3 separate regions of the Homo sapiens genome follow, and all the other regions are linked to region 1. The links come from fine-mapping of genetic effects on gene expression. A gene starts in region 1. Each other region holds a variant in brackets. All regions are shown on one strand. Distances are from middle to middle.

Region 1 (2,663 bases):
TCCTCTGCACCAGGCAGGCCAGTTTCCTCTTTGTTCCTTCACAACACCCTGTTCATTTCCAGAAGCTTCTATTCAGTCTGATACCCAGGTCTAGAATGCCCTCCTTCCCTTCACAAACGAATCCTACCCCTTCCTTAAGGGGAAGATTCCTACCTACATCCCAACATCTCCTCCTCCAAGAAGCTTTCTCTGGCTATTCCAACCCATCCTGCCCCCACTTCCAGGCGGTCGGGAATGCAGAGTGGGGGGACCCAATTCTCTCCTGTGACAGATGAGGAAACTGAGCCCAGGGAGGGGAAGGCCACACCCAAGATGACACACCAGCAGAACTAGGTCTGGAACCAAGACTCTGCTGCACTAATTGTTCCAAGATGCCCTTCCTTCCTCGTCTCCTTTGCTGTGGTAAAAATTTTCCAAACTAGCCTGGCCGCCCCCAGTTGTAGGTAAGCGTCCATACTTACTCTTCCCGCTGCAGGTACGAGGACCGGGCGCGAGTTGTCACTCCCCTCACCTCCCCCGCTCCTCACGGCCTAGCGCGACTCCTGCCCCGATCGGGAGTCCAGTCCCGGTTTCTGCGGCCACGTCGGGCCGGTGACCTTGGCCAGGCGCTGGACGCCCCGCTTCCTCCGTACAAGGCAGGCAGCCGATCCCGCGAGTGGGGCGTGAGCGCGGCCAGGTCTGTGCCACGCTCGGCCCAGGGCCTGGTTCACACCAGGTGCTCGGCGCGGGCCGTCCCCCGCCGCCGCCGCCGCGGTCACTCACTGCCGGGCGAGGCCAGCGCCCCGGCCGCCGACGCCGCCTCCGACCCCCGGCTCGCGGCCCGCGGCCCGCGGCCCCTTCCCATTCACGCCGCTCGGCCTCGCGTCCGGGTGCCCGCGCCCGCCAGGCCCCCGGCGTGAGGAACCCGGCGGGCCCGAGGCGGCCCCGCCACCGCCCGCGCCCTCCGCCCGGCCCGCAGGCCAGCCCGTGCACCGGCGGCCGCACCTCGCCCCGCCGCAGAGCCGCACGGTCGCTCCTCACCTGGGCTCCCCGAGACAGGCGAGGCGGGCCCGGCGCCCAACACCATGCCCGGTCCGGGCGGCTGCTGCGAGACGCGGCCCCTCACAGCCGCACCGGCTCCCGGCGGCGGGACCGGAAGTGGCGGGGCGGGGACTCGGCCGCTCTCGCCCGCGGCAGCCGAGACAGCAGCGGGCGCTTTAAAAAAAAAATTCAAAGTCGCGAAAAACTTTATTTGGAACCAGACACGCGAACAGCGGCGTGCGCCGATCGGGACTGGGCTGGGCGACGGGCCTCTCGGACCTCGCTCATTGGCAGAGGGCGCGGCCAGGGGGCGGGCACGGATTTCGCAACCGCCGCTGATTGGCGAGTAGCGTTAGGGGCGGGGATTCCGAGTTGGCTCTGGAGCCCGAGCGCCGGAGGGCTGGGGGTTTTGCACCTGGTTCCAACACGGGTTCACTTCGTGGTCTGCAGGGTTTAGGGGCACGGAGGAGCCCGGGCTATCCTTCCCTGAAGGAGCGGCCTCCGTGGCTGGAGCTCCCGCTGTCCAGCGCCGCACCTGGAGTGCAAAGGACTGGACAGGCCCCCGCAGCCTGCAGTGCAGGCGGTGAGGGAGACCGGGCGGTCAGACACGCAAGCCACGACCAACCCCAAACCGTGTGCTGCGCCCACAGGCCCCACTGTTCTTGTCATGTCCCTTTTATTCCTTCTTTTCTCTCTTAAATGTGTTTAAAGTACCTTAAAAATCCATTTCAACTTGTCCTCTTTTGGGCGCCCAGATTCATCCCGCGCCCATTAGCGTCCTGTGTGATTGACGAGGGGCCGTCCTGGGCGTCAGGCAGGCCCCTGGAGGAGTGGGCCATTAGAAAGATGAGGTTCAGCATGGAAACGGTCAGAAAGAGACAAGGAGTTAGACTTTCATTTCGAAAAACCCCACTGAGAGGTTTCTAACAGTGGAGTGACTATCAGGTTTTCTTCCTAAAGGAGGCTGGCGGGCCCGGTGGCTCACGCCTGTAATCCTAGCACTTTGGGAGGCCAAAGTGGGAGGATCCCATGAGCCCAAGAGTTTAAGACCAGCCTCCTGATGGTGGCAAGACCCCATCGCTACAAAAAAAGAAAAAAAAAATTAGCCGCGTGGTGGCGCGCGCCTGTAGTCCCAGCTACTCAGGAGGCTGGGATGGGAGGATCACCTGAGCCCAGGAGGTTGAGGCTGCAGTGAGCCGTGATCGCACCACTGCACTCCAGCTTGGGTGACAGGGCAGACCCTGTCCCCATAATAATAATAAAGGCTTTGGCTCTAAGTGAGTCGGTGGGAATGGAGTCAGGAAAACTGGTCAAGAACACAACTCAGCCGGGCGCAGTGGCTCAGGCCTGTAATCCCAGCACTTTGGGAGGCCGAGGCAGACAGATCACCTGAGGTCAGGAGTTCAAGACCAGCCTGGCCAACATGGCAAAACCCCATCTCTACTAAAAATACAAAAAAGCCGGGCGTGGTGGTGCGCCCTTGTAATCCCAGCTATTTGGAACGCTGAGGCAGGAGAATTGCTTGAACCCAGGAGGCGGAGGTTGCAGTGAGCTGACACTGCACTCCAGTCTGGGTGACACAGCAAGACTGTTTCCAGAAAAAAAAGAAAAAAGAAAGAACACAACTTGTGTTATTTCTTGTG
Region 2 (2,663 bases), 25 kb after region 1:
TGGAAGAGGGGAACATATATTCAGGGTAACTTGACTATATGTCTCCTGGGTTGCAGTCCTCAAATTTGGCCCAAATAAACTCTCTAATTATACTTAAGAAAGACAGAGAGAGAGAGAAAAGAAAATCACAGAAGACAAGAATGAGCTGCATACAAACTTCTTGGTTCAGAGGGGCTTCATTACCCACCATTACAAAATTAGATAGGAAACCAAAAGTCAGCTGAAAATAACCTCTGAAGAACAATCTACTTATAGCCAGGTGTGGTGGCTCATGCCTACAATGCCAGCACTTTGGGAGGCCGAGGCAGGAGGATCACTTGAGCTCAGGCGTTCGAGACCAGCCTGGGCAATATAGTGAGACACCCCCGTTTCTAATATAATAAAAGGAAAAAAATTAATATGGCAAGTGATGTTAGTGAAAATACAATAAGGAACCCTGAAATTATTGTGCATTCTAAGAAGCAACAAAACATTGGCCCAAACTGCTGGAGTTAATTTCTTGGAACTCTGGAAATTAAACAAAGACTTGTAAGAAGTCAGGAAGCACTTGATAAGAGGAAGAGCTGAAGGAAGGGCTGGAGTCTCTGTAAGAGCAGCAGGCTTTGTGGCAGTTAACTTACTCTATTCCCCTCCCTGGCTCCCCAGCAAAGCAGGAAACTTGAAAATGAGAGGCCAGTTTAGGTGCAGTGGCTCACGCCTGTAATCCCAGCACTTTGGAAGTTCGACATGGGTGGATCATCTGAGGTCAGGAGTTTGAGACCATCCTGGCCAACGTGGTGAAATCCCGTCTCTACTAAAAATACAAAAGTTAGCCTGATGGCGTGTGCCTGTAATCCCAGCTAATCAGGAGGCTGAGGCACAAGAATTGCTTGAACCTGGGAGGTGGAGGTTGCAGTGAGCTATCACGCCACCGCACTCCAGCCTGGGTGACAGAGTGAGACTCCATCTCAAAAAAAAAGAGAGAGACCAAATATACAGACAATGGCCAGGCCATATACACAAACAGAACTCTCACCCACAACCGGTAACAACAAGCCCAGGAAGGAAGCCAAACCCTTATCTGCACATAACAACTCAGGAAGCCAGCATGCTACAAGTCAGACTTGTTGGAGGTCCAATTGCTCTCTCTAGAAACAATCCACAAAGTAAAAACAATTACTTCTGTGACAATTGGCCCCACGCAGCCAGTTGACTGGTTAATAACTAGACACTTTCCTAATTTTTGTCCCTGCTTCCAGCTGAGGACCAACCAGAGAAAGTCAATTTGCTCCCCTAAGCAATCATATAGAAGCCCCATTTCTAGCGAGCCCTCCAGCTTCCCTAGGTCAACAGCCTCCAATCTGCACACACCTGAGCCTTCCCTTTTCTCCAGCACGAAGCTTCCCCACTCCCCTGCCTGCTTTTGAGTGTCTGCTGAAACACAGGAGAGTGGCTTCCTCCCTTGTCATAGCAAGCTCTGAGTAGATAAATAGCCTTTG[C/T]TTCTCTCCTTATTTCCATACAGGTAACAGCACACATCCCCAGCACCAGAGAGAGCAGAACAGACCTCATTCTCAAAGAACTGTCATTATTTGACCTGTCTTCCCTGGAAGACCAGCTCAAAACACTTTATTTTTTTTTGACCCAGAACTTTCCCAGTGTTGAAGACTTACGCAGGGAGTGTTTGTGGAAAACACTTATAGCCAAAGGCTTTAGTTGTTGCTGCCCGAGGCAATAGATAACAGTTGAGAAAAACAATAATTGAAATTCTTCCTTTAATTGGAAATGGTGTTCAAAACAAGTATTTGAGTGCTCAGTGTGCTTATTGCTACTAAGGTGTTTGTGTGTGTGTGTGTGTGCATGTGTGTGTGTGCACGTGTGTGTGCATGTGTGTGTGTGCATATGTGTGTGTGTGTGTGTGTGTGTGTGTTTGAGATGGGGGTCTTTTTATGTTGCCCAGGCTGGTCTTGAATTCCTGGACTCAAGTGATCCTCTGACTTCAGCCTCTCAGGTAGCTAGGATTACAGACTCATGCACCATTCCCAGCTCAGGGTATTGGTTTTTAAAGGCCCTTTCAGCTAGCAGGGTAAAAAAATAGAGTCATGAACCACATGACAATGTTTGGGTCAATGATGGATGATATATTTGATGGTGGTCTCATAAGATTATAAGACTGTGGAGGCTAAAGCAATTCCATCTTGGACTCTAATCCACTATGGTGACTTCTCATTAACCCCTGTTCAGGGAGGCCTCTAAGATTTCTATTTTATCTACTATTACCATAAACCCTGGCCTTGGGTCAAAATGACCTTGGCCATAAATCCTGCCCTTAGGCAGATTCACATAGCATTCTTGCCCTTCCCTAGGGATCAGCTTCACTTGTCCTACCTGTTCCTTCCCCTATGGTAGGAATGGTGTGGGGGTCCACCAACTTTTGGCTACCTGAGACATGGCTTCTCTTCATAAGTCTTTATTAAATGCTTCTTTCTGAGGAGCTGGATTTGTCAGCCTCTTCTTTAGCCCTCAGCTTCCTTGGACTTTGGGGGTAGGTTTGCATGGACTGGACTGCTATGAAGCAAATACCATGTTTTTAACTGAACTTTTCTATGTTAAGATATGTTTACATGCATGAATACCACTGTGTCCCAATGGCCTACACTCTTCAGTACAATGACATGCCGCACAGA
Region 3 (2,663 bases), 110 kb before region 1:
AAAGGAAACAGTTGAGTATGTTGCTCCGATCTGATGAAAACTGAATGACAGAAATCAGGAGTAGTGAGCGCAGGCCAAATGTTATCAAAGTGAACAGAGAAACGGGAGAGGCCAGAGCTGGGAAACCTGAAACGCCATGAGTCTAAGCTGCTGTTCTTCCCCATGAGCTCTCCTTAAAGAGAAACAAAGGCCGACTCACCATGACAATGCCAGTCTCATTGTTGGCCAGCATGATGGTCACGAGGCGTGTGGTCGGGCGGACTGCCGCGAGGATGTCGTCCACCTCTGCCTGCCCGCTCACCTTGGACACCGGGACAAAGGTGACCGCTGGGAAACAAACATGAGTACCGAACTGAGCTGCACAAATTGATTCCTCTCAAAACTGCGTTCCAACAGAGCTTAACAGTTTTCTACAACTATAAAAGTAAATTGTTGTCCAAGTTCAGAAGACTATAAAGAAGAATATAAGCCGCCCATCATCACTGGCCCAGAGTCACTGTCAGGTGCTTCAGTGTGAACGTGTCTTTAACGCGGCTGCAGTCAGTGAATCTGTGTCGTGGAAGCTGTGTGCCTTTCTGCTTCTACGGAGACGGAAGAGGAAGAGGCAACAGGGATGCAGGCTCTTGCTTTTGGGGAGGGTCCTAGTGCACAGCACTTCACTGCCATGCATTTGGCACCGAGCCAGTGCTGATGAAGCCGCTCCTACGCGCCAGGCGCTGACTGCCCCGGGCACTGAGAGTCTCACTACTGCAGATGGAAAATGAGCAGAGGGGACTACATTGTTTAGCTTTAGTGCTTTGAGTTTAAAATGGTGAAAAACAAATGTATCCACTGCCCACTCAGGATCCTACTGAAATGAAAGAGAAAACAGCTACTTCTCCGACTAAGAATCAAATCAAAACAACACCAACAAAGGGTATCTGGCCAGGCGCAGTGGCTCACTTTGGAAGGCCGAGGTGGGTGGACTGCTTGAGCCCAGGGGTTCAAGACCAGCCTGGGCAACATAGGGAGATCACACCACTGCACTCCAGCCTGGGTGACACAGTAACACACTGTCTCAAATAAAAGGGGGTGGGAGGGGGTATGTGGACTAGGAATTTTGAGGAGTCCCTAAAATGTAGCAAGATGATGGCATTAGATTAACAGGGAAAAGAACACTTAAAGGCCAATCTGAAAGTATCCAGTGGCCACCCAAGTTCAGGGTGGACAGCGGGAAGCGCAGGGCACGGGCCAGCTACCGAGGCCGGCAGAGGTCAGCTTCCCAATGTCCGAACACGCCCTGCTCCCGTACACCAAGTCAGCGGCAGAGGTGCTGACCTCAGACTGAGACAGCACCACACGCCCAGAGAGGGCGGGCACAAGGTGGGCTCCCAGGATGGGG[G/A]AAGGATCTAGAAAAGGGGGAGGAGCTTGAGGCATCTGCTAGGGAACTCAGAGGAGCAAAGCAAAGGCAGCTCCGTCCAGGGAAGTCACGAGAAAAGTTGGGGGGGTCCACCCGGCTTGCCGGGCTCTGCTGCCACCACCTTATGCAGAGCCCACCGTGGGCCTTCCTTTCCTGGGAGACACCTCCTGGGGAAACGCATTGAGAACTGGAGATGAGCCATCCCTAGCCCCTACATCAAACAACGAAATGCTTCATCCATCCACAGGAACAATCCAGGATCCCCAAGCCTGAGGAAAAACCAGGATGAACAGGTAAATGACTGATTCTAGATCACATAGAAGCAATCCCAGGAACAGGAAAACTAAAAAAATTCTAACTGGTATCTTCAGTGTGTGGAAAAGCAGGAAAAAAGGCAAGTGATAAAAACTGCCTATGACTGTACTTAAAGAGATAAAGAAAAGTATGATGACAATGGCTCATCAAATAGAGAGTCCTCAAGATAAACAAGAGAGAAATTATGAAAAAGAACCAAAAGGAAATCCTGGAGTTGGAAAGTACAACCGATATGAAGAATTCACTGGAGGGGCTCCAGAGTATATTGGAACTGGCAGAAAATACATTTAGTCAACATGAAGGTAGATTTACAGAGATTACGAAATCCAAATATAAGACAGGAAAAACATGAGAAAGATAAACAGAGCCTCAGAGAAATGTGGGACACCATAAGGCACCAAATAGGGAAAACAGGAGTAGCAGAAGGGCAGGAGCAAGAGAAAGGGGCAGAAAAATGTCTCTGAAAAATAATGGCTGAAAACATCTCAAATGTAATGGAAAACACTAATCTACATACCTAAGAGGCTCAGTGAATTCTGGGTGGGATAAAACACAAAGACATTCACTCCCAGACACATGATAATGAAAATGTTGAAAGCCAAAGACAGAGAAACTATCTCGCAATCAGCAAAAGAGATTCCGTCTCAAAAAAGTAAAGGAAAAAAAGGGCAGTGTAACTGTATATTGCTTCTCTTAACTGATTTAAAAGCAACTGTATAAAATAACATGTATATAATTATTTTGTTAGGGCTATAACACACAATATTTCATAATAGCACAAAGGAGGTGGGAGGGAGCAGAATTGTCTATTAAGGAAAGGACACCAGATGATAATTCAGATCCATGGAACAAATGAAGATAATGTGAAAAGGCAACTAAGAAGATTACTCAAGCAAAATCTATAAACATATACTTGCTCTTTCTTCCCTTAGCTTCCTTAAAAGATATG

The links. PIP is the estimated chance that this variant, and not a neighbour inherited with it, causes the effect.
Region 2: its variant is the best candidate, but not a certain one, in a credible set for the expression of UBE2F in left ventricle (GTEx, PIP 0.50).
Region 3: its variant is the best candidate, but not a certain one, in a credible set for the expression of UBE2F in thyroid (GTEx, PIP 0.82).

What each region holds. Positions count from the first base shown.
Region 1 is chr2:237,965,490-237,968,152 of GRCh38, reverse strand. It overlaps UBE2F (ubiquitin conjugating enzyme E2 F (putative)), which reads right to left and starts at 1,139. Exons shown (of 10, transcript NM_080678.3): 1 at 1,021-1,139. UBE2F-SCLY (UBE2F-SCLY readthrough (NMD candidate)) reads right to left here and starts at 1,208. Exons shown (of 19, transcript NR_037904.1): 1 at 1,021-1,208. RefSeq lists a silencer at 916-1,095 and a cis regulatory region at 2,612-2,663.
Region 2 is chr2:237,940,633-237,943,295 of GRCh38, reverse strand. No RefSeq gene overlaps it. Among named protein-coding and RNA genes, the nearest start is that of UBE2F-SCLY, 25 kb to the left of the region's middle. RefSeq lists an enhancer at 1,418-1,917. The variant C/T (reference allele first, on the strand shown) is at 1,479.
Region 3 is chr2:238,079,373-238,082,035 of GRCh38, reverse strand. It overlaps SCLY (selenocysteine lyase), which reads right to left. Exons shown (of 12, transcript NM_016510.7): 5 at 200-327. UBE2F-SCLY (UBE2F-SCLY readthrough (NMD candidate)) reads right to left here. Exons shown (of 19, transcript NR_037904.1): 12 at 200-327. Among named protein-coding and RNA genes, the nearest start is that of ESPNL, 20 kb to the left of the region's middle. The variant G/A (reference allele first, on the strand shown) is at 1,382.